Linked DNA regions of Homo sapiens. The protein of the gene in region 7 interacts with the protein of the main gene of each other region in a pairwise test. Each region holds a gene or a part of one and is shown on either strand. Other genes may lie near its edges.

What was found.
Region 1: the proteins of NDUFV2 (region 7) and HSCB interact in binary tests that used the Homo sapiens proteins (3 or more experiments, as listed by UniProt).
Region 2: the proteins of NDUFV2 (region 7) and ZNF19 interact in binary tests that used the Homo sapiens proteins (3 or more experiments, as listed by UniProt).
Region 3: the proteins of NDUFV2 (region 7) and API5 interact in binary tests that used the Homo sapiens proteins (3 or more experiments, as listed by UniProt).
Region 4: the proteins of NDUFV2 (region 7) and SMARCB1 interact in binary tests that used the Homo sapiens proteins (3 or more experiments, as listed by UniProt).
Region 5: the proteins of NDUFV2 (region 7) and PLB1 interact in binary tests that used the Homo sapiens proteins (3 or more experiments, as listed by UniProt).
Region 6: the proteins of NDUFV2 (region 7) and ZSCAN22 interact in binary tests that used the Homo sapiens proteins (3 or more experiments, as listed by UniProt).

The regions. Positions count from the first base shown.
Region 1 is NC_000022.11:28,740,837-28,744,838, reverse strand, and holds the start of HSCB (iron-sulfur cluster co-chaperone protein HscB isoform 1 precursor), read right to left. Parts: upstream 2,801-4,002; 5' UTR 2,744-2,800; coding exon 2,508-2,743; coding exon of another isoform or gene 2,459-2,507; intron 2,159-2,458; exon of another isoform or gene 2,111-2,158; intron 958-2,110; coding exon 861-957; intron 225-860; coding exon 135-224; coding exon of another isoform or gene 130-134; intron 1-129.
Region 2 is NC_000016.10:71,476,204-71,479,324, reverse strand, and holds part of ZNF19 (zinc finger protein 19), read left to right. Parts: intron 1-319; coding exon 320-446; intron 447-983; coding exon 984-1,097; intron 1,098-3,052; coding exon 3,053-3,121. UniProt on the Homo sapiens protein: May be involved in transcriptional regulation.
Region 3 is NC_000011.10:43,314,996-43,318,495, forward strand, and holds part of API5 (apoptosis inhibitor 5), read left to right. Parts: intron 1-3,425; exon of another isoform or gene 3,426-3,487; intron 3,488-3,500. UniProt on the Homo sapiens protein: Antiapoptotic factor that may have a role in protein assembly. Negatively regulates ACIN1. By binding to ACIN1, it suppresses ACIN1 cleavage from CASP3 and ACIN1-mediated DNA fragmentation. Also known to efficiently suppress E2F1-induced apoptosis.
Region 4 is NC_000022.11:23,796,966-23,800,465, reverse strand, and holds part of SMARCB1 (SWI/SNF-related matrix-associated actin-dependent regulator of chromatin subfamily B member 1), read right to left. Parts: intron 1-3,500.
Region 5 is NC_000002.12:28,641,851-28,644,642, forward strand, and holds the end of PLB1 (phospholipase B1, membrane-associated isoform 1 precursor), read left to right. Parts: intron 1-1,007; coding exon 1,008-1,211; 3' UTR 1,212-2,292; downstream 2,293-2,792. UniProt on the Homo sapiens protein: Calcium-independent membrane-associated phospholipase that catalyzes complete diacylation of phospholipids by hydrolyzing both sn-1 and sn-2 fatty acyl chains attached to the glycerol backbone (phospholipase B activity).
Region 6 is NC_000019.10:58,325,823-58,329,793, reverse strand, and holds the start of ZSCAN22 (zinc finger and SCAN domain-containing protein 22), read right to left. Parts: upstream 2,801-3,971; 5' UTR 2,680-2,800; exon of another isoform or gene 1,255-2,679; intron 1-1,254. UniProt on the Homo sapiens protein: May be involved in transcriptional regulation.
Region 7 is NC_000018.10:9,119,699-9,123,198, forward strand, and holds part of NDUFV2 (NADH dehydrogenase [ubiquinone] flavoprotein 2, mitochondrial precursor), read left to right. Parts: intron 1-1,566; exon of another isoform or gene 1,567-1,758; intron 1,759-2,814; coding exon 2,815-2,983; intron 2,984-3,500.

The DNA.
Region 1 (4,002 bases), on a different chromosome or scaffold from region 7:
AGTTCTGGGATTACAGGTGTGAGCCACCATGCCTGACCTCAAGCACTCTTCTGCTGAATAAAGGGGACGTGGCTGTCCTACGCCATAATGGGCATCAGGACGTCATACACAGAAGTGTTGGGAAATCACCTTACAAGGTACAGTCCTCTGCTCAGGGGGGCCAGGAGGGTCTTATAGGCATCATTCACCAGGGTCGAATGCTTCTCTGAGAAGTCCTTTTCAGTCTGTTAGTGGAGATGAAGATAGTACTATTACCATCCAAATCACAAAGTTTTTTTGTTTTTGTTTTTGTTTTGACGTTGAGTCATCCAGGCTGGAGTGTGCAGTGGCGCGAACTCAGCTCACTGCAACCTCCACCTCCCACGTTCAAGTGATCCTCCTGCCTTAGCCTCCCAAGAAGCTGGGACTACAAGCATGTGTCACTGCACTGGGCTAATTTTTATATTTTTAGTAGAGACAGGGTTTCACCCTGTTGGCCAGGCTGGTCTTGAACTCCTGACTTCAAGTGATCTGCCTGCCTCGGCCTCCCAAAGTGTTGGGATTACAGGCGTGAGTCACTGTGCCAGGCCCACAAAGTTTTATAATATTCTAATGGGCAGGCACCTAAGGAAGTGGTTAAGTAGAGCTGGTGTGGGATGAGGTGTCTTTATATTCAGCTGATAGGTTTTAAGTTATCTGGGAAGTCAGACAAAAGCTGTGAGTGAATGGCAGCTCTGGGTCTGACAGGCTGGGGTCAGACTGCCATGGGGCAGACACAGCTGATTTTCCAGCTCAGTCCCTGATAATCACATAACCACAAGGCTACTGCCACCCAGTGTGCACACATATTTGGGGATTATTGGGGTTGGCCAATAAGCTACCTGAGACCTCTGGCTGAAGAAATCTGGGTGGACAAGACGCTGCAGTTGCTGGTACCTGTGCTGGAGCTTCGCTGTATCAACTCTGAAGGAACGGTTGCTGGAAGGAAATTGGGAGATTAAATTTATACAACAAATATTTAAAGGTTTATCTACCATGAGCCTGGTTCTTGCTCTTATGGGGAAGATGCAATAACATATAAGCAGTTAATTTCAAAAAGTGGTAAGTCCTATGAAGGGACACAGAACAGAGTCAGAGAGTGTAGCAGATGTAGTGGACAAAGAGATGACACTCAGCTGAAACCTGAATGATGATGAGTAATCAAAGATCAGAGGAAAGAGACGTCCAGGTAGAATTGCAAGAGCAAGGACCTCGAGGTGGGAGCAAGATGGGGATGCCTGAGGAACTTAAAGATCAGCGTTACTGTAGCCCCTCATACATGTTCAGTGACTGGTGGGGAAGATCCCATAGTTAAGGAAAAGGGACATTCCTAAATTACACAGACAAAGATTCTTTGCCTGGCCAAACTTTAGTCAGATTTCTGAACCTTCTCCTAGGCCCAGATGTATGCTTTCTTGTAAAATACAGTTTTGGCAAATAATCTTGCCAAGTCAGTTTAGCTAGAATCCTCGATCCTCATATTTTTGATCATCCTAGATCTCTGATCAGATTCTTCATCCTCTACTATCCCCCAGGTGGTGTCTAAGCAGCCTGGCCTGTCTTCAGCAAGAATCCCGTTAGGTCGGCTTAGCCAGAATCCCGTTTACTCTGCTCCTTGGCTACAAATTTCCTTCTGCCCATGCCCTTTTTGGAGTTGAGACCAATCTCTCTCCCCAACTGCAAGACCCTATTGCAGTGGCCCCTCTACAAGATGGTCTTGAAGAAAGTCTTTCTGGTGCTTGAACAAGTGTGACTGAATCATGTTTTCTTTAATACCACCCTAACTTTTCCACGGCCCAGGTCCCTTCATCCCTGTCTCTCCCGGTTTATTTTAATTCAGCCCCTTTCACATTCTACTCCCAGAGTCTGTCCTATTTCCTTACCAGTTCAGCTCTATCCACACTGCCCCGTCTCTCCAAGAACCTCAGTCTCAGGGGGAAAAACCATTTATTGGACCCTCTCCCTCCAATTCTCACTTTTCCCTCAGGCCTCGCCCACAATATTAAGCTTTTCATGCTTTACTCCCTAATCTCGGATCACACTTCTGCAGTCCTTTCTTAAATACATCAACCCAACTTTAAACCTTACTCACCCTATTCATTCAAGTCTTCCAGTCTCCCAGGCCCTGCCCCTCAAGTACCCTTTCCTCAAGTTCCGCCCCTCGACTTCTCCTTCCCTTTCCCGTAGGTACCGCCCCTCAAATCTCCCTCCCCTCTAGCCTCGGCCCCCCTATTTCCTCTAACTTCAGCGCCCGCCCCTCCAGTCCCGTTCGTCTCCCTTCTCCACACCTCAACGTTGCTTCCCTCAGTCCCCGCCTCTCAATTTCCTCCTGAGAAATCAAGACACTTCTCTCACGCCTGCTCTCTAGACCTCCGCCCCCCCATCAGTCCCGCCTTCTCTTCCGCCAGCCAGATCCGTCCTCCCCTCTCGCAGGCCAGACCTCGACGTGTCTCTCGCCCGGGCCCGTTTCCCGAAACCGTCGCTCGTACCAGTCCATAAGGCTGAAGTAGTCTCGAGTGGGGTCAGGTGCCTGCAGCGCTCGGCACTGTGGGCAGAAGAACCTGTCCTCCCGCCCGGGGCCCCATGGGCCGCCGCAGTTCCAACAGCGGGGATAATTGCTTCCCGCCTGCGACGCAGCATCGCAGCTTAGCGGTCTCCTTCTGGGAACCCCTGTCGGCCAAAACCCCCACACCCGGAGCAAAGCCCCGGCTCTCCCCCGCCACATCTGGCCGGCGGCCTATCTAGCCGTGGTCACTCGTGGGGAAAAGCAAAGAGAGCGTCTAACCAGACTAATGTTGCTGATTGGCTGGGGAGTCGAGGGGGCGGGATCACCCGAGGGGAACCCGGGTTCTAAGTTCCGCTCTCCCTTCTAAACTACAACTCCCAGGAGGCATTGAGGCGGCGCCTGACGGCCACATCTGCTGCTCCTCATTGGTCCGGCGGCAGGGGAGGGGGTTTTGATTGGCTGAGGGTGGAGTTTGTATCTGCAGGTTTAGCGCCACTCTGCTGGCTGAGGCTGCGGAGAGTGTGCGGCTCCAGGTGGGCTCACGCGGTGAGTCATATGGGGAACTTCTGTTGGGTGTTTGGTGGTTCGAATCCCATCTTAAGCGTTTTGTGCGAACGGAGTCTCCTGAGCTTCGCTTTGTCTGTAGTTTTGAGCTGAAGGGGGAGTGTGTGGGCGACTCTCTTCCTTTTCAGTAGATCATCCTCGAGGTGAAGTTCACTTCCCGTATTACTTGCAAGCTGAAACAGGCCTGAACATACAGGATAAGAAGAACAGCGTTGTATTCTTCAATATCAGAGCGAAGTGACTTCGTAAAAATTCTATAGATGTTAGAAATCGTTGCCATTCTTTAGGTTCAATCTATAAAATACTTATAGAGAAGCCAGTCTTAGCTACTGGGCGCTGCAGGGACTGGAAACGCACTGAGCTGTGTAGGAGGATGTTCTGCGTGTCCCTAAATAAGTCCCTAAGTAAATGTATGGGATAGGGTGGCCAGAAGTGGGTAGGAGGGCATCAGTCCTCCTTCGGACTTAGGTTTTCTGCTTGAAAAAAATATTGTGTTTCACTTGAAAGACCTCTGGAATTTTTAAAAAAAATTATTTATTTTTGATATAAAGTATACATATATGATTACCATCTGTACCTTTTTTTTTTTTTTTTTTTTTTTTGAGACGGAGTCTCTCTCTGTTGCCAGGCTGGAGTGCAGTGGCGCGATCTGGGCTCACTGCAACTTCTGCCTCCTGGGTTCAAGCGATTCTCCTGCCTCAGCCTCCTAAGTATCTGGGATTATAGGTACCCGCCACCATGCCCGGCTAGTATTTTTAGTAGAGACGAGGTTTCACCATGTTGGCCAGGCTGATCCCGAACTCCTGACCTCAGGTGATCCACCTGCCTTGGCCTCCCAAAGTGCTGGGATTACAGGTGTGAGCCACCGCGCCCGGCCTATTTTCAATTTTTTGAGGAATCACAATACTCTTCTC
Region 2 (3,121 bases), on a different chromosome or scaffold from region 7:
TTACTAAATCAAAGAGATTTTTGCCCTAGGAAGGTTAACTAATAAGAGACTTTTTTTCCTAGGGTTTAAAAAATGTTAAATCACATTTTATGACAGTCAATTTTATATCCTAATGGAATCTCTTCTGGTAGTGAGAGAAGTTCCAGATTTTTCGTTGTAAAAATAGTCATATAATGGTCTAATATCCAGTTCTGTCACATTTTCTCATTACCTATCCCTCACAGGACTTTCCCTCAAGTCCCTACCTGTCCCCTCTGCCCCACACTCTGGCCCGGAGCCAGAGGATTGGCTCTGGGGCAGCAGGAACCTGTTGTTTTAGGAGATGGTGACCTTCGAGGATGTGGCTGTGCACTTCACCAAGACAGAATGGACTGGCCTTTCTCCTGCCCAGAGGGCCCTGTACAGAAGTGTGATGTTGGAGAATTTTGGGAACCTGACTGCTTTGGGTAAGGCCATTTTCCTCCTAGGACTCAGATCTGTACTTTTCCAGTTTCCTTCCTTCTTTTACAGCCTGGGGGGAGGAGTGTGGAGTGGAGAGGAGAGGTTGTCTCTTGTGTCCTCCACTGAGTGACTGCAGAGCTGAGGCTCAGTGACCAACTTCAAAGATTGCTGGGTAGGGAGAGGTCTTGGGTCACTTTGGTCTCCCAATGAAGGGAATTACTGTCCCCTGGTAAGAGTATGTTCCATCTTCCAAGAGGCTCTGCACAGTAAGGAATAAGTAGTAGTTGTTGTCTGGGGAAGGGCATGTCCCCTTCCCTGTGTTTGCTCATGCCTTGTGGATCTCACTGACTTACTTATCCTTGAGTGTTTTTTTTAGGAAGAAGTCACAAATGCTCAGTTTCCTGTTGATCGGAATCTCTTTGGCCTTCTCCAGTCGAGAACCCTCTTCTGTGGGTCTTATTCTTACTGAGACTCCTGGGGTTTTCCTTCTTTTGACACAGCAGATACAGGGCTGAAAAGTACCATTTTCTTCCTGTTTTCAGGGTACCCAGTTCCCAAACCTGCACTGATCTCACTTTTGGAGAGAGGGGACATGGCTTGGGGCCTGGAAGCACAGGATGATCCCCCAGCAGAGAGGACCAAAAACGTCTGTAAAGGTAGGTGAGGCAGATTTAGAACCAACAATTGTAGCGTTTTATGGAGCACTGTATTTTAAAATGAATCATGCTGGGCAGGATTTAAATAAAATAGATGATTTCACCTAATAGGTAAAATATGAAACGTTTCTCACCAATCTTAACTCTTACCAACATGTAATCACTCAGTACGTCTCATCTGCAATCCTTGAATCCATTGTTCCTTTCTGAGTTTCAACATTGCCTACCTTAGTTGTCCTCCTTGGTTGGGATGGATTTATTCAGGAGCAGTTTTTGAGCAACTTGCCATGTGCTGAACGTTGTTTAAGAAGTTCTGGCAGGTACAAGTTATGGAGACAGATGTAAAAAGCGAAAAAGAAAAGTATTAAGTGCTGTTGGGAGTGGGACGGAGAATGTGAAGGTAAAATGGGCCAGATCTTCCCAAAAGTTGGCCATAAATGGGGAGAGCTGAGTCAGATAACACTAGGAAGTCATGGCATGGGAGGAGCTTTTTGAATTCATAGGAATTCAGAGCTGAGCACAGGGCGTGAGGTGCCTTTAGAATAGGCAAGTGGATGGCTAGAGCAGGCCATTGAGAAGGTGGGTGGAGAGTCTGAGATAAAAGGCAGGTCTGAAACAGTACTCTAACACAGCTGGGTTGAAACGATCCCCAGGAAGAAAAAATGAAGGCTGAATCTTAACCATTAAGGGATATTTAATTTCAGTGAGAGAAGGAAGAGAAAGTAGACAGTCAAATAGATGGGGGCCACCAAGAGCAAACAGTGAAATTGAAGGCAGAGGCAGGAGTTTCAGTGCAGGTGGTTTGCAGAGAGCAAATACGTGGAAAATAATGAAGCTAGCACAGCACTTCAGCCTCTTATTCTAAGAATCTGAAAAAGAATCATCAAGACAATTGAGAACCTGTTGGTTTGTTCTCACACGCTTCCTCTGTCTGGTGATTATTCTTTTTCAGACTCTTGGTTACCTTGTTTACTTCAATCTCAGATTACTCTCCTCTGAACATTCTCCTTCGGAGTTCCCTTACTCCTTTAACTCACACTCATAGGATGAACTTGATTAACCATCACATGAGTCCCAGGTAACCCACATTAATGTTAAAACCAAGCCCATCATTTCATATAAAATGGATTGACTTTAACTCATTTAAAATGTCATCCAATCTTTTGGAACACAAATGCCATTTTATGGGCTGTTTGTCTCCTTTTTGCTGATAGGAGAAAGAATACTCTCAGTCTGGGTGTGTCTAAGTAAACTGTTCATCCCTTTTCAAATAGAGAGTCTAGGACAGTAGTTTCTCTGCATGTTTGAGGTTCAGCAGTTTTAGGGCGTTTCCTCATCGTCTATAGTCCATGTGTGGTTCTGCAGTTAAGAACCTCTGAACTAGGTAATCTTACAACATATTGGGAATAATACTCTCTAAGCACTTCTGTGATTTTCTTTCTCTCTGTCTTGCCACAACCCAGTGTCTGTAATGTTCAGTGTCTTAAGTCTTTTGGGACATCTGCAGGGTATGAGTTTTTAAAAAGAACAACAATTCATCCTTTGCCTTTGCTTTCTGATACTGTTCTGTTTCACTTTCTGATTCTAAGTCTTGCCAGCCCCGATGTCACTACTTGTTCTTAAGACCTGTGCCTTCTTTGGCATTTTGTAGGCTGTAAGTAGCATCAATTCAAAAGATACTAGCTCATGCCAGGGATGACCAGACATCATTCAAATATTAGAGTAGAAAAGCTTAGGAAGCAGTCTCGTGTGTTGTGTCCACTGATACCCTGTTCCACCTCAATGTTCTCTGCCTGTGTGATATTTGGCACTTTCACTTTAACAGCCTTTTCTTCCCAGCATGCTGATGTGAAAGTTGAAATGATCTCTTTTAAAGCCTTATCATTTTCAATGCTCTATTATTTCTAGTATAGTTCTCAGGTGGCATTATTTGTGTTTTCTATCTCTTATGTCAGATGTTGAGACCAACATTGACAGTGAGTCCACATTAATCCAGGGAATTTCTGAAGAAAGAGATGGGATGA
Region 3 (3,500 bases), on a different chromosome or scaffold from region 7:
TTATGATCAGTACTAAGTTTCCTGGCAAATACCTGTCTGGATACTTCTGAGACTGCATTCAAGTTTGTCAGTCTTGACTTCCTTCTAACTTTTACTTTGATTATCAACCTTTACCAGAGAGGTGAGCACTACAGGTGTTCTGATTGCTGCCACTACAGACTATTCCCTCCCCATTATTGTCAATACTCCTTTCAGAGTAGTGCCTTCTAAATATATAAGGGTAAACTTACAAGCCGTCTGAGGTTTTATCGGCTAATTTCCCCAAAGCAGATCAAATCCTCTTTTTGAACCCCTTGGTACGATGTACTTACTAATAATGCTTCAGACTTGTATTTTATTTTATTTATTTCTGTACTTAAATTATAACGTCTCAAGGGTTAAATCCTTTTATGTATTTATTTATTTATTTATTTATTGCTTCTCTTCTTGCACTGTACCTTGCCCTTCAGTAAGCATTTCTTTTTCATAGTTGAAGAAATGTATTGGAAGAAGGAACAGAGAAACCATTTACAAAAGAAAAGAAAAACCATTTACACAGATTATCTCTAATGGATAAAGGGAACTTTATCATACACACACACATACATACATATATGAGCATGTATATTCTAATAAGCAAACTGCAGATGACAAATTCTAAGTGCAGAATTATTTAATACCTCAAATCTTCCAGTCCTATCATCTTCTCATGTAACTGCCATGTTCTGCCTATGCGTTCATCCTGCCTTTCCCCCACTCTGCCTCTGCTACTCCTTCAGGTCTCACTCTTCTCTTGTGTGCTCCTTTACCTTTCTGATCTCCTTTTCCACTGTACTCTGCCCAGGGCTCCTGACTAGCCATAATAGAGCAAGCTGTGGCCCACCATTATTTAAAATTCTGTTTCAAATTATTATGAATTTACTTACTTTAAATATAGATACTTAATTTTATATTATGTAGTCAAAATCTTAAAAGTTAAAAAATGTATCCGACACCTGTTAAAGGACCATGGCAGTGGGGCTGATTAGATCTGTATAATGCTGAAACCCTGATTCCTCCTGTTCTCTCAATCATTGAGTATACTAGCTTTGCAGGGTTGGCGTGTAGGCTTCTTGGACTTTTATTTCATGAAATAACCACTCTTGTAGTAGGGTTTTTTGTATGATTAAGCTAAAACCACTGACCAACCAAGTTCGTAATCCCTCAAAAATATGTGGAAATATTTATTTCACTTCTCTGAGCCCTAGTTTCCTCATCTAAAAGATAAGAATAGTAGTAACACCTATTGTGATATAGACAAGGAATCACTCAGTCCCTGGTAGACCTTCAATAAATATTGTTAATGATTCCTTTTTATTTGATTCCAGATTTAATATTTTTTTCTTGGCAAAAGGAAGTTTTGTTTTAAGCAGGGTTTTTTTTTTTTCATTTAATTTTGGACAGTGTAAGGAGTTTCTTCAAATGGCTTTATGAGTAAGTTTGAGTTAAAGAAAATTAGATTTGTGATACCCTGCAAAAAGTAAGGGTGTCAGAACAAACTTTGATTTTATGAAGCCTGCCTAGAAGTCTGAGGCAAACCACAGGAATGTAAAGTGGTAGAGAAGTCAGCATGATTTCTTTTTTTAATGTTTGCGGTGAAAAGTATGTCATATACCTTTCTTTCTTTGAGACAGGGTCTTGCTCTGTCAGGCTGGAGTGCAGTGGCGCGACCACAGCTTACCACAGCCTCTAACTCCTGGGCGCGACCATGGCTTACCACAGCCTTTATCGCCTGGGCTCAAGTGATTCTCCTCCCTCAGCCTCTCCAGTAGCTGGGACTGCAAGCACACACCACCATGCCTGGTTAATTTTATATTTTTTGGAGAGACAGGGTCTTGATGTGTTTATAATACACTTTTCAGTGATGACTCCTGAAGACTCATATATCTGCATTTCATGAAGAAGTTAACCTTATTCACAGAAATTTCTGTTATTTGGGAGTTGTTCTGTAACTTTGCATCCTGCTTTATTTTTTCACTTAACATAGCATTATCAACAAAAAAGAATCACTGTAAAATAAATTTGGTAATTCTGTAGTTCATTGGATATTTATTGGTCATTCCCCGCTTGATGGCATGAAGTAAGCTCATGTGTCTAAAGCACTTAGAACACTCCTTATACATAATAAATACTATACTGTGTATATGTTTGGTCAAGATTATAATTTTTAAGTTGTTTTTCCAGTTACTAAGTTTTATTCATATGTCCAAACAATATATATGTGTAGTCTTTCTGTATTTGTTACTGTTATTTACCATCTTTATCAGTGTCATTTCATAAAAGGACTGGTTTGGAGGCAAGTACTTAAGGAGGATTGGGAACTTATTGATTCCTCCCATTATGAGTATTTGAGGGAGAGCACCTGTGATTTTTTTTTTTAAGGAAACATGAGCTTTGAGTGTATTGTTCCAATAAAAGGTTTAAACATGTGACATTAGAGTCCGTCTTAATCCAAAATTGTCTGGCTATATGGAGTGAATTGTCATGGCTTTCATATACTGCTATGAGGTAAAATTAAACTGCACTTCCTAACATTGCTGGAATTGCTAAATTTCTGGAATGTATTCCCTTCACCTTCTTCAAGGTGCTAATTAGAAACAGGTAAATTTTTGTTTAAGTAAATACAGTGCAATTCTTTGTGAATTCTATGGTATTCATGATGATTTATTTATTTACTTGTTTAAGATAGAGTCTCATTCTGTCACCCAATCTGGAATGCAGTGGTGCGATCTCAGCTCAGTGCAACCTCTGCCTCCTGGGTTCAAGCGATTCTCCTGCCTCAGCCTCCTGAGGAGCTGGGATTACAAATGTCTGCCACCACACCCAGTTAATTTTTGTATTTTTAGAGAGAGGGAGTTTCACCATGTTGGGCAGGCTGGTCTGGAACTCCTGAGCTCAAGTGATTGCCCACCTCGGCCTCCCAAAGTGTTGAGATTACAGGCATGAGCCACCACACCTGGCCATCATTACAATTGTTTTGTTTGTTTGTTTGTTTTGTTTTGTTTTGTTTTTTGGAGACAGAGTCTCACTCTGTCATCCAGGCTGGAGTGCAGTAGTACGATCTCAGCTCACTGCAACCTCCGCTTCCCGGACTCAAGCAATTCTCCTGCCTCAGCCTCCCGAGTAGCCGGGATTACAGGCGCACACCACCACGCCTGGCTAATTTTTGTGTTTTAGTAGAGACGGGGTTTAACCATGTTGGCCAAGCTAGTCTTGAACTCCTGACCTCAGGTGATCCACCCACCTTGGCCTCCCAAGGTGCTGGGATTACAGGCGTGAGCCACCACGCCTGGCCCATTACAAATTTTTTAAGCATGATACAGTCACATGGCCAGAGTTAATAATCACTAGAATGAAGAAGTATTGGCATATTAACAAACACATTTGCTTTTTCCACTTAAAATTAGACTCATCCATCTCCCCCAACTCAAAAATGAAACAAAGATGGAGGGAGAACGGAATTGGGAAGGTAAGTGTCAGTT
Region 4 (3,500 bases), on a different chromosome or scaffold from region 7:
CTCAGCAGGTGGCTGGGAGTCCCCAGGGTTTTGAAGGAAGAGACATGATCAGGCTGTCATTTTAGACATACCAGCCATCCTGAGATGGACTAGGCAAGGCCTCTGGCCTCTCAGCTTCCACAGCAGTAGAAGTTGAGAAGATGGGTTGATAAATACCTTCCAGAGGTGACATCCAAGGTAATTTAAATAACCCATGTCCCATGAAGCGTTTGATCTTTTCTCCCAAATTCCAGGTTGCTTTTACCAAAAGCACCAGGTGCAGTGGCTCATGCCTGTAGCTCCAGCACTTTGGAAGGTCAAGATGGGCAGACCACCTGAGGTCAAGAGTTCGAAACCAGGCCAGGTGCGGTGGCTCACGCCTGTAATCCCAGCACTTTGGGAGGCCAAGGCGGATGGATCACCTGAGGTCAGGAGATCAAGACCAGCCTGGCCAACATGGTGAAACCCTGTCTCTACTAAAAATACTAAAATTAGCCAGGTGTAGCCGGGCGCGGTGGCTCACGCCTGTAATCCCAGCACTTTGGGAGGCCGACGCGGGCAGATCACGAGGTCAGGAGATCAAGACCAGCCTGGCCAACATGGTGAAAGCCCGTCTCTACTAAAAATACAAAAAATTAGCCGGGCGTGGTGGCAGGCGCCTGCAGTCCCAGCTACTCAGGAGGCTGAGGCAGGAGAATGGCGTGAACCCGGGAGGCAGAGCTTGCAGTGAGCCAACATTGCGCCACTGCACTCCAGAGTGGGAGACAGAGCAAGACTCCGTCTCAAAAAAAAAAAAAAAAAAAAAAATTAGCCAGGTGTGATGGCAGGAACCTGTAATCTCAGCTACTCAGGAGGCAGAGGCAGGAGAATCACTTGAACCCAGGAGGCAGAAGTTGCAGTGAGCCGAGATTACACCATTGCAGTCCAGCCTGGGCAACAAGAGCGAAACTCCATCTCAAAAAAAAAAAAAAAAACCAAAAGGTGAGTTCGAAACCAGCCTGGCCAACATGGTGAAACCTCAACCCTACCAAAAATACAAAAGTTAGCCAGGCGTGGTGGCACACGTCTATAATCCAGCTACTCAGGAGGCTGAAGCATGAGAATCACTTGAACCCAGGAGGCGGAGGTTGCAGTGAGCCGGGATCAACCACTGCACTCCAGCCTGGGCGAGAGAGCAACATCCTATCTCGAAAAAAAAAAAAAAATACCAAAAGCTGTTTTAAACTAAGGCTCCAGGGCTGGGTGAAACAGATGAGAGCATTTGGGTGCCCGTTGTGCTCTGTGCTTTTCCATTTTCCCTGGCAAGGCTGTGAGCAGGAGCAGGCAGCGACTGTGTGTCACTTCCCTGTGTAACCCCAACACCTGCGCAACCACTTCCACAATAACTATTCAACCATTCAGAGCAAGTCATGACAAACTTTTTTTTTTTTTTTTTTTGAGATGGAGTCTCGCTCTGTCGCCTGGGCTGGAGTACAGTGGCGCCATCTGGGCTCAATGCAAGGTCTGCCTCCCGGGTTCACGCCATTCTCCTGCCTCAGCCTCCCGAGTAGCTGGGACTACAGGCGCCCACCACCACGCCCGGCTAAGTTTTTTGATTTTTAGTAGAGACGGGGTTTCACCCTGTTAGCCAGGATGGTCTCGATCTCCTGACCTTGTGATCCGCCCGCCTCGGCCTCCCAAAGTGCTGGGATTACAAGCGTCAGTCACCGCGCCCGGCCGACAAACGTTTGACAGTTCCCTCTAAGGAGGGACCCGGGAAGACAGCACAAAGGTCCTTCTCCTTTCCAGAGGGTGGGGGAGGGCAGAAGCAATGGCCAAGACCTGCCTGGACTCTGGGCCCTTTAACTCTTTTCCCTTCTAAAGTGGGAATCACTTACACGTCTGATGCTGAGGCTGGGACTACCCCTTGATCGCTGGTAGGGGTAGGGAGGATTTTGTAGTACCCAATTTGGGGAACATGGAATCAGCTTGGGCAGAGACTATGAGAGGGGACAGCAAGACAGGGGTCCCCTCTACAACCTATCTGGGTCATAGTTCCTAATCCTGGCCGCTCAGAGTGCAATTTTTAAATTTTTTTATTTTTATAGAGATGGTGGGGTCTCACTATGTTGCCCAGGCTGGTCTCAAACTCCTGGGCTCAAGCAATCCTCCCACCTTGGCCTCCCAAAGTGCTGAGAGTACAGGTGTGAGCTACAACACCCAAACCCAGAATGCAAAATTTTAAGAAGCACATTCCTGAGCCCCACCCAGGTGGAGTGACTTCCCACCTCTGAGGAAGGGCCCAAGAAGATGTGTTCTTTGCAGCTTCCACGGGTGATTTCCAGGTAGCTGAGCCTGTATTTGCAAACCACAGATCTTGACCACCTCCTCTTTTCTGACTGGATACGTTAGAGCCTGGGCTGAGCCCCTGCCCCCTCATCCTGCCCTATCTCAGTAGCAAGTTCTCATTTCCAGGTCTAGCTATCAACTCAAGTGGACAATGCAAGTGTCACTAGACACAGTGAATGTGAGTAACATGCTCAGCCATACACAGAATCTGCAAATCTAAGCCATAAAATTCAACCTTCTGGCCAGGTGTGGTGGTTCACACCTGTAACCCCGACACTTTGGGAGGCCGAGGCGGACGGATCACCTGAGGTCAGGAGTTCGAGACCAGCCTGGCCAACATGGTGAAACCCCGTCTCTACTAAAACTACGAAAAATTAGCTAGGTGTGGTGCCTGGTGCCTATAATCCCAGCTACTTGGGAGGCTGAGGAAGGAGAATGACTTGAACCCGGGAAGGGGAGGTTGCAGTGAGCTGAGATCCCGCCACTTCACTCCAGCCTGGGTGACAGAGCGAAACTCGATCTCAAAAAAAAAAAAAAAAAAAAAAAAAAGGCCAGGCGCAGTGGCTCATGTCTGTAATCCCAGCACTTTGGGAGGCCGAGGTGGGCGGATCACAAGGTCAGGAAATCGAGACCATCCTGGCTAACACAATAAAACTCCATCTCTACTAAAAATACAAAAAAAATTAGACGGGCGTGGTGACAGACACCTGTAGTTCCAGCTACTCGGGAGGCTGAGGCAGGAGAATGGTGTGAACCTGGGAGGCGGAGCTTGCAGTGAGCCAAGATGGCGCCACTGCACTCCAGCCTGGGCGACAGAGCGAAACTCCGTCTCAAAAAAAATAATAATAATAAAAAAAAACAGGCCAGGCCCGGTGGCTCACGCCTGTAATCCCAGCACTTTGGGAGGCCGAGGCGGGCGGATCACGAGGTCAGGAGATCAAGACCATCCTGGCTAACACGGTGAAACCCCGTCTCTACTAAAAACACAAAAAATTAGCCGGGCGAGGTGGCGGGCGCCTGTAGTCCCAGCTACTCGGGAGGCTGAGGCAGGAGAATGGCGTGAACCCCAGGGGGCGGAGCCTGCAGTGAGCCGAGATTGCGCCACTGCACTCCAGCCTGGGCGACAGCGAGACTCCGTCTCAAAAAAAAAAAAAAAAAGAAAAACAACCTTCCTTCCATTGCAATCCCAGCAT
Region 5 (2,792 bases), on a different chromosome or scaffold from region 7:
ATAACTTGCCCCATCAAGGCTGCTTGAAATCCTTGCCTGATCCCTACTGCCCATTGACCAGAGTCTGGAGGGAGGGTCACCTCCCTCCATGATACACACTGCACTCCTGGCCGGTGGATCCATCTCCCAGGAAGCCCCACGACTGCCCGCATCCAGGCCTTTCCTTTTGCCATCTGTTCCTGGAGGTTCATCTTCCATCTGCTATGAGAACATCCGCCTCCCTCCAGGTCCAGATGTTGCCTTTACTAAGCGATGGTTTCACCGTCTCTTACCTACCATTCCTGTCTCCAGACACTGACCCATGTGGGTCTCCTTTTCTATTTGTACCTCTCATGAGACACCGACCCAGTCTCCTTTATGATGTGATTGTTTCTGCACATCTCAACTTCCTCCTGGGCCACAAGAAAAGATGTCACATCTTAACCCTCCAGTCTCATCACAGCTTCCAGCAAGGGGGCTAAACACAGCACGTGCCCAATTCACATTCACTGAGAGGAGAGTGGAGAGGGGCATAGGAAGGCAAGAACGCACACGATCTGCCCACATGCCTCCCCTCCCGGCCCTTCTGATTTGGGGATCTTTCATCTACTACAAAACCAGCTGTCCTTCCATGCTGCCCTTCCCTGATTTCTGGGTAGTCCTGGGATGGGAGAATGGGGACAGTTGTGACCACGAGGAAGCAGAGGTGGGAGTTCTACAGGCCCCACAGGGCTCTCTGCCATTGGTCACCTATCAGTTCCCAATCTTTCAAAATCAGGTTTGATGGCCAAGGAAACGCTGGTGAGAAACCAAAAGAAGGTTCTAGCTGGGTGTTGACCTCTTTAGAGGCCCATCCCGCTAAAGAGGGTTTGGGCACAGCCTAAATGAGGGAGCTTTACAAAAGGGAAGCTCTGTGAAAACGTGCAGGGTTATCGCAGCATCTCAGGAATGGGGACTAGGCAAGTCTTGGCTTGGTGATGGATGGTTCACGGAGATCCTTTCCACTGACCCCCGCTCCTCCTCCACAGGAGAGCCCTTACCTCTACACCCTGCGGAACAGCCGATTGCTCCCAGACCAGGCTGAAGAAGCCCCCGAGGTGCTCTACTGGGCTGTCCCAGTGGCAGCGGGAGTCGGCCTTGTGGTGGGCATCATCGGGACAGTGGTCTGGAGGTGCAGGAGAGGTGGCCGGAGGGAAGATCCTCCAATGAGCCTGCGCACTGTGGCCCTCTAGGCCCGGGGGTGGGTCCTCACCCTAAACTCCCTATAGCCACTCTCTTCACCGCCCTCTGCCCCAGCCACTCCCGGCCACCAGGACATGCTTCAATGCCTGGTGCCATAGGAAGCCCAGGGGACAGTCACAACTTCTTGGGGCCTGGGCTTCTTCCAGGCCTATGCTCCTGGAATGGATACATTTAAATAAAGTCCAAAGCTATTTTATTCCTGGGTTTGCCTGCGTGAAGCACTCACCTTCCATCTCTTGTGCAGCCCAGGTGTGGGAGCTGCCACTTTTTGTGGCCTGCCTCCAGCAGGGCTGCCCAAGCCACGACCAACCAGAGCCCAAACTGCCTGCCACCACGAGCATATCCTCAAGTCACCAAACCCACTATTTCAAAGGCAGAAAAAATGCTGGTCACCAGGTGGTGGCTGGAATTTTGGAGCTGGCTGGTTGCCATTCAGTCCAATCCAACACATACCTATTAAGCAACTGTTTTGTATCCAGGACAATGCGAAGCACTGAGGTGCCTCCTAGGCTGTGCATGTCGCAGCCTGGCAGAGAGGTCAAACTCCTTCAATAACCAAGAAGCCACGTGATGATGTGTAACTACTAGGGCATCAGTAGGTAAATGTGTCTGATTGTTTTAAAGAATAGAAAGGGTTCTTCGGGGAAAGTTTCTTGGGGGAGAGCAACCTTCACATGTCATTTTGGGAAAAGGAATAAAAAATGATTGGGACACAAATACCTCCTATATTCTCAACCTGATTTTCTCAAGGTGCTAAATTTAGGAAAAAATTCCTATTTCTATATGCCCAGGTTTCTGAGGGAAAACTAGAGAGAGTCTGAAAATATGGGCTGCATTCACTGAGCCCCTGCTAGGGGCGAGGCCCCGTGCTGGAGGCCTTCCACAGATGGTCTCTTTTATGCTGCACAAAAGCCCAGGGAGGGGGTAAAGGGAAAATCTTTGAAAATAGAAGTGATGCTTGCGCAACACCGTGAATGTACTAAACGCCGCAAATTGTTCCATTTAAAATGATTAATTGTGTATCATGTGAATTTCACTTCAATAAAAAAGAATCCAGGGAGGTAGACATCATCTGCATTGTAAACCTCTCTCTGATCCTGAAGTCCGGGATGATAAAGAGCCTGAGTCACAATCCCGGATGCAACACTGAAATGCTGTGCCCTGAAGCTGCCTTCGCCAGCCTGAGCCCAGTGTCCCAGGCTCTGCATCTGTAAAAACTGGAGTAAGAGTACACATTTTGCTTATCTCACGGCGCTGCTGAAAAATAAGGAACCGTGTGTGAACCTCTAACTCTAAAATGCTGCACAACTGAAAATGGCCTTTTTCCTCGGTGAAGAGTTGGGATAAGGCCCAGACTGTTGGGGAAGATGTGAGACCCAGAGATGAGTTTGGGGAAATGGGGTAATAACATATGGGTGGAGAGTGCCCGCCTTCCTCTCAGGGAGGTTCATCACCTTATCTCTTTCTGTCACAACAGAGAACCCGGAGGACCTATACCCAGTTCCGTGTTCTTCTGGGCTTCAGTGTCTGTTTCTATACAATGGGAACAGCATGCATTCCCCTGCTTTTTC
Region 6 (3,971 bases), on a different chromosome or scaffold from region 7:
TATATATTCTATATTTTTTTCTTATTATATACCCTTGATAAAGTTCATAAGTTAGGCATAGTAAGAAATTAACAACAATGACTAATAAAATAGAACAATTATAACAATACACTGTAATAAAAGCTATATTAATGTGGTCTTTCTCTCTCTCTCAAAATATTTTATTGTACTATATTCACCAAAACTGAAGATGAGGGGTGACTACTGTATTACTTTTCTTGACATTCTCTACTTCCCACAGTGAATTTGTTTTCTCTTATAGTCAGGAAGAATACCCTAAATTAAGTGTAACCTCTCCTAGGAGACCTCGACACTTTGCTTTGGCCACATACTACTCCTTACTCAAAGACTTAGCCTCTCCCTCTCCCATCCACGACTCCCACAGTTTTAAGTATTTGGAGTTCTTTTTCCTTTCCTTCAATGTCAGCCAGGACGCTCAGTGTGCCTGGAGTCTCTGCTCAAGGAAGTCACCCTGGACAGAGATGCAGGAGGCCTGAGAAAGAGCAATGGCCTTGGGCACAGGAAGAAGAGAACGTTACTCTAAAACAAGACCCCAATCCTGAAACCTTTTGGTGACCGCTGGTGACCTCTGGTGGCCTCTGGCCAAGCTGCGTTTAAGCCCCTTCGCCGCACTGTAAAGTTCTCCTGGGTCTCTTGTGGCCTTTCTAAGCCCCTTGTCGCCCCTGCTGCTCTCGAGTTCTGAAATCCGTCTCTGACGGATTCCTCTGGGCTCTCTAGGCCTCATCTTAGCTGCCACTTTCCTCAGGTGTCATCCCAGATACCTGGTACTAGTCTAAGTCCTCTTCCCAGAGTGCCCTGGGTAACTCTTTGCTAGTTCTGTACTGTTTCCTCAGAGAGGCTGGGCTGTCCTGGAGCCACAGCACACAGGACTTGCCCTATAGCAGGTTCACAATAAGCAGGCATTAAGCAAATGGAATGACCAGTAAAGGCTGAGCATGGTTACCCAAGAATGTAGGGAATCATGAGGGGAAGGAGGAGCAAGGGTGGCAGGGATGACAATAGATGCTGCAACAGCTTCCAAGTTCTCTTTTGCACCCCTGGAACACCTGTTCTGGAGAAATCCCTCATGACGGTCTCTGAAATACATGTATGTGAAACTTCCTCAGCCTCCTCAGCCAACCTCAACTCCTATCAGGTTGAGGTTCCCCATCCACAGCTGCTTTACCAACCAAGGAGGGTGGTTCTTTTCATTTCTCACACATGGATTATACCAAGCCTGATAATGGTACCTACCTCAGAGGGTTGCTATGAGATTATGTGAGGTGATTTATTATAAGTGTCCAGCACAGGCCTGGTGCACAGTAAACATGCAGTAGATGTATGGATACCATAGCCCCCTGCTACACGTAAGCAAACACTGGGGGACATATCCATAAGCCCAGCTGAATGACCACTAGTCACTCAGTTTCAGCTGCAGACATGGCAAAGCACAAATCCTCTCTCATATGCTTGGTAAACTGTTTGTGGATCACCCAAGTTTTAGTCTCCCTGATAAAAATCTCAGTCAATCAGATATTAACACATATTATCTCAGGTACAGTCTGTCAGCCACAGCCTTCAAAATACCCAGACACAGGAAATATCTCAATGTCACCTATAATCAGTCAAATAAACACAGGCCTGGCCAGGCATGGTGGCTCATGCCTATAATCCCAGCACTTTGGGAGGCCTAGGCAGGTGGATCACCTGAGGTCAGGAGTTCCGGGCCAGCCTAACCAACATGGTGAAAGCCCGTCTCTACCAAAAATACAAAAATTAGCCAAGTGTGGTGGCCGGTGCCTGTAATCCCAGCTACTCGGGAGGCTGACGCAGGATAATCGCTTGAACCCGGGAGATGGAGGTTGCAGTGAGCCGAGATTGCGCCACTGCACTCCAGCCTGGGCAACAGAGCAAGACTCCGTCTCAAAAATAAACACAGGCCCTCGCAGCATTTCCATCACACAGTATTATTCTGATCACAGTCATTCATAATCTTAGTCACCATCTCAAGGACACACAAAGAAAATCAGTCACACTTGAAATCCCACCGTCACACGCTCACCCTCTCACAGTATCTCACAACCCACGTAGGAAGTCTCAAACGGCAACCATCTCTGTCAGTCACACACTCCATGGTTAGTGTTACACTCAACCTATCAGAATCACACACTCCAACCCGTCAGATACACACACCCAAGAGGTGTCAGACACAGAACCGCCTATCAGACACATAAACGGGTCCGCCCCACACCCTCCCAGGCCACTGGTCCTACATTTTATCTGTTATCTGTCCGCCCGCTCCACACTTCGTCCGCCCCACACCCGGTCAATCAGTCCATCCGACACACACTCCGTCAGTCCGACACATTCTCCGTCGGTCCGTCCGGCACTCAGTGTGTCATTCCGCACCACATTCGGTCCGTGAGTCTGTCCACACCGGGTCCGTCAGTCCGTGCACACACGGTCCGTCCACGCCTGGTCCGTCAGTCCGTCACATCCTCTGCGCGTGTGTCCGGCACTCGCAGTCCGTCTACTCACGTCCCCTAGTCAGCCTCTCACTCTCTACCCGCTGGGCGGTACCCCGCATCTCGCTCTGGCCGCCCCAGAGGTTCGCGGCTTCTGGACCTGCTGTGCCCCTCTCCAGCCTGGATCAGGACGGAGAACACCCCCGAAACCCACCTCACCAGCACAGCCGGCGGACCCTTCCGGAGGTGGCCGCAGAGACTAGCCAACTTGCGCGCCCGCCGACCCGGACCACAGCTCCCAGCACACCTCAAGGGCCCACGCCCGCCAGGACTACAATTCCCGGCGTCCTCCGGAAGCTCAAGTGTACCCAGGCGCGGTGCCTGCTGGGAATTGTAGTTGACGTTGGTCAGCACGGAGGCCACAGGATCCCAGCCCGGCCTTTGTGGGACTGAGGTGGCGCTGAGTGGGAGAGCAGCAGGCGATGCGCGAAAGGCGGGACTTGGAGGTGAGGGAAATGTGAAGGCTGAGGGTGAGAGTGCCTGTGTGAGGCTGAGGGTGCCTGTGTGAGGGTGAGGGTGAGGGCGGCTGTGTGAGGGCTGAGGGCTGAGGGTGCCTGTGTGAGAGCTGAGGGTGCCTGTGTGAGGCTGAGGGTGCCTGTGTGAGGCTGAGGGTGAGGGCGGCTGTGTGAGGGCTGAGGGTGCCTGTGTGAGAGCTGAGGGTGCCTGTGTGAGGCTGAGGGTGAGGGCGGCTGTGTGAGGCTGAGGGTGGCTTTGGGAGGGCTGAGGGTGTTTGTGTGAGGGGTGAGGGGTAAGGGTGAGGCAAGAAAATCGGGTCTGGAGGCAGGGAACCTAAGGACTTCCTAGAAGTAAATCAAATGGAAACTGCAGCTATGGTAGGAAATATCCTCTCCATTTATGCAGGGCGTACATGGAGTAAATCACTTTGTAACTTTACTTCGTCCTCTTCATTTACATAGGGCATATACCAAGTAACCAATGGAAACCTCTAGAGGGTATTTAAACCCCAGAAAATTCTGTAACCGGGCTCTTGAGCCCCTATGCTCCGGCCTGCTCCCATACAGTGGAGTGTACTTTCATTTTCAATACATCTCTGCTTTTGTTGCTTCATTCTTTTCTTTGTGCATTTTGTCCAATTATTTGTTCAAGATGCCAAGAACCTGGACACCCTCCACCAGTAACAAGGGTACCTGGGTGAGAGGTGAGGGTGCCCATGTTAGGAGTGAGGGGAGAGGGTGCCTGTCTGAGGGCTTGTGGGTGTGAGTGTCTGTGTAAGTACTGAAGGTGCCTTTGTGAGAGGTGAGCGGTGTGGTTGCCTATGTCAGGGTGTGTATTGAGTGTAGCTATGTGTGGCTCTCTGTGAACACATGTAATCATTTTTATAAATGTGTATCATTTTTTACTGAATTTGAGCTGGGCGTCTGTCTGCATGAGTCACTCTGTGACCAGGTTTGTGGGTTGTTCTGTGTGCTTACTCTGCGTGTGTGT
Region 7 (3,500 bases):
GGAGCCCTTTAGCCATTTGTATGTTTCCTTGAATTGTCTTTGTGTTTTTGTTCATTCCCTTAATGCATAGAGGTGATTTCTAACCTTGCAGGAAATAAGGAAGGCATTATGGTGAAAGAGGGTATGTGTTTTTTTTTTTCCTTTTGAAGGAAATGGTCAAAGATAAAAGATTCCAAATGTGTATAACTTAGTGTCAAGATATTCTGAAAATTAATGTAATATTTAAACACTAGAATTACAGAAAAGAAGATCTGCTCACTAGTATGAAAATTTTTAATATTTTACATCTTTGGCTGTAGGCTGTAAGAAAAATCTGTATAATAGGTGATATTTATACAATTTGATTATGCTACTTTGGAATCAACGACCTATAGAAATGCTATGGATGACCCATTTTATTCAAAGTTACTCTATTCATATAATATTCATTTTTCCTAATAGTTTTGAGCAGTAATACAAATTTCAAGTTTATTCGTATCCTGTTAATACAAATAACTACATTTGTGTGGTGATGTATTACAGCATATCATTTATAAAGTGCCATACACAAACCACATACTATTTGATTCTGATGAGAATCACATAACCATTAAGCTGTGTTATATAATGGAAAATATTTTTGACTTAGAACTAAGACACCTGATTTTTCTCTGAACTTCCTCATTGGCAATGAAAGTTTTGAACCAGGTAGACCTCTTCTAATTATTAAGTTATGATTTCTGAGCGGTAGTGCTAGGACTGAATTCATTTCTAAATCAGTGCATTTTCTACTTGACTGACTATAACAGAGATTTTGTTGTACTTCATTCTTACCACTTTCTAAACTTAATTTGGTTATAACTCTTAGGCTAGACAATCATCTTTCTGAGAGAATAGGAATGTCCTCAATTTATCTAATAGAATCCTAAATGCAAATTTTAGATTTAGTTTATTGATATTTTATTTTATTTGCATTGTATAGTACTATAACACTGGTTTTTCCCTATGAAAAATATTATAAAGCAAGTTTAGTGAGTTACTATCCTGAGTAAACATAGGTGGTTATTTCTTCGATAAATTATGTATTTCTTGGGAAGTTACTTAACATTTTTTTAAATTAAAATAGCCAACTTTATAATGATTTAGGTATATGTTTCTAATTATAATGTTATTATTTTGAAAAAATCATATTTTTAGTAATGGTAAGCCTGTTGGAAATCTTGCTGAGTGGCACGTTAGCAGAGCAAAATAAAAATAAATAAGAAACTGAAAGTGAAAACATTTAAAAAATAAGACAGGCATGGTGGTGCATGCCTGTAGACCCAGGTACTCAGGATGTTGATGTGGGAGGATTGCTTGAGCTTAAGACCAGCCTGGGCAAGATGGTGAGACCCTATCTCTTAAAAAATATGTATTTATATATTGTCCTATTATATTTAGGGTTGGATTTGTGTGGGGGAAAGGCAGGAAGTGTAGGGTATAGGGAATAGACTCAAGATTCTTTGCACTTTACATTTGGGACTTTTATTTTAATGTTACTGCCCCTCCCCCCAACCCATGAAACACCTAACCTTACAACAAAAAATATCCAGAAGCTTAATAATTATTTATTTAACCGTCACTAAGGTGTAGGGAGATGTGCAGAATTCCAGGAAGGAGTCTTTTCCTAATTAGACAGTCAGAGCCTCATTCCAGATTTATTATTCCTTTGGTAGGGTTCCAGCATGTATATTTTGATAGAGAGCTCCCCAGATTCAGGGATACGTCCTTGATTCAGAACTGCCGAATGAAATAGCACAATTACTTTATCTGTCACAAGTGAGCCATGATTAGATGTCTTTTGAGAATATATTTCCTTTAGAATTCCTAATATGAGAAAGTTAACATACTTGTCTGAAATGCCCGCTCTTCTTTTATATTAGAATATGGATATATCTATAATTTTTAAGAATGCCAGATAGTAAGTCTTAATGATAATAGGTCACCTAGAAAGTTGTAGACAGAATTATAAATCACGATAGACAAGGACCAGCCCTGGCAAACAGCTAGAAATCCTCGTTTTCCCTAACAGACTTGCCCTAAGAAAAGATGCTGAGTTAGTGATCCCCTTAGTCCTGAACACCAGAATGTCAAAACAATTGTTTTCTATTAATGTCTTGACGTGAAGGGTTAGAAAGTACTAGACTATATGATTCAACTTTCAAAAGAGTATTGTGATATGAAATAGAAGTAGTGTGCTGGATTCTGGGAGAGGAGTGTGTGATTGTGTATGATAATATGTGTATACATATATGTAGAGATATAAAATTTTGAGTTTACATATTTAAAATATGGGCCAATAGTGAGCTTTGATTTTCAACCTTTTTTTCTGTTGCTGTACCATTTGTATGTAGGCTGTTTGGAAAAAATTGGTGAGAGTTTAAAAAATCTAATTGCTTCTTTTATTGGGGTTTGGCCATCAATTTTTTGCCATTTAGACAGATTATAAAATGTGAGTTGACATGATCAAAGTAGAAATTCTTAATAGTGAAATACTTAAAGATTTAGAGAAAAAGAATATCCTTTTACAGAGGTGAGAAGTAGGGTAGAAGGAGGAAGTGCTGTTAACTCCATTAACTTTCGGGCTCTGTATGGTTTAAGTGTAAGTACATTGTCTGCAAAAATTGAAGAGTTTATATCTCCCAGTTATCCAAGACAAGTATGTTTTCTGCTCTTGAAGAACTTTTCTGTTTTTACCAAATTGAGACAATATTGAAATTATACTTTGTACAACATAATTAAAGCTCCATTACTAACACTGTAATTATCTTATTTTTAAATGTCCTAATATTTTAGGTTGCAGAAGTTTTACAAGTACCTCCAATGAGAGTATATGAAGTAGCAACTTTTTATACAATGTATAATCGAAAGCCAGTTGGAAAGTATCACATTCAGGTCTGCACTACTACACCCTGCATGCTTCGAAACTCTGACAGCATACTGGAGGCCATTCAGAAAAAGCTTGGTAGGGAATACATGATATTTGTAACACTGATAAAAAGTAGAATTGTCTCTCTAGATTTGGTACATTTCTATCTAAAATTTCCAACTTCTGCCATCTTATTGGATCTGTACTTACCTAGTAATATTTTGTGTTACTGTGTTTCCACATCTTTATTTCTTCCTATTTGGTATTCTTCCTCAGTTCTTAGTGTTAAAGCTGAGTTTTTAATTTTTTCTTTTTTAATCAGTATGTTTGAAATGCTTGTAGAAGTTATAAAATATTCGTTGTTTAGAAGATTGTTTCACTTAGAAAATTGTTTCACTTACTATTCTATGACAGCATGTGGTATATTAAAAAGTGACCCATTATTGTCTTTATATTCTTCTAAAGAAGTCATGGAACAAATAAGATACAAGCATAGTAAGAATGCTTTGGGAAGGGAAATTTGAAACAGATGTTATTACAGTAGCATTTGAAAAGTAAATTAGCATTTTAAAAGTAAATGGGCATTTTCCCCTACAAAACTGCCATTGCTACA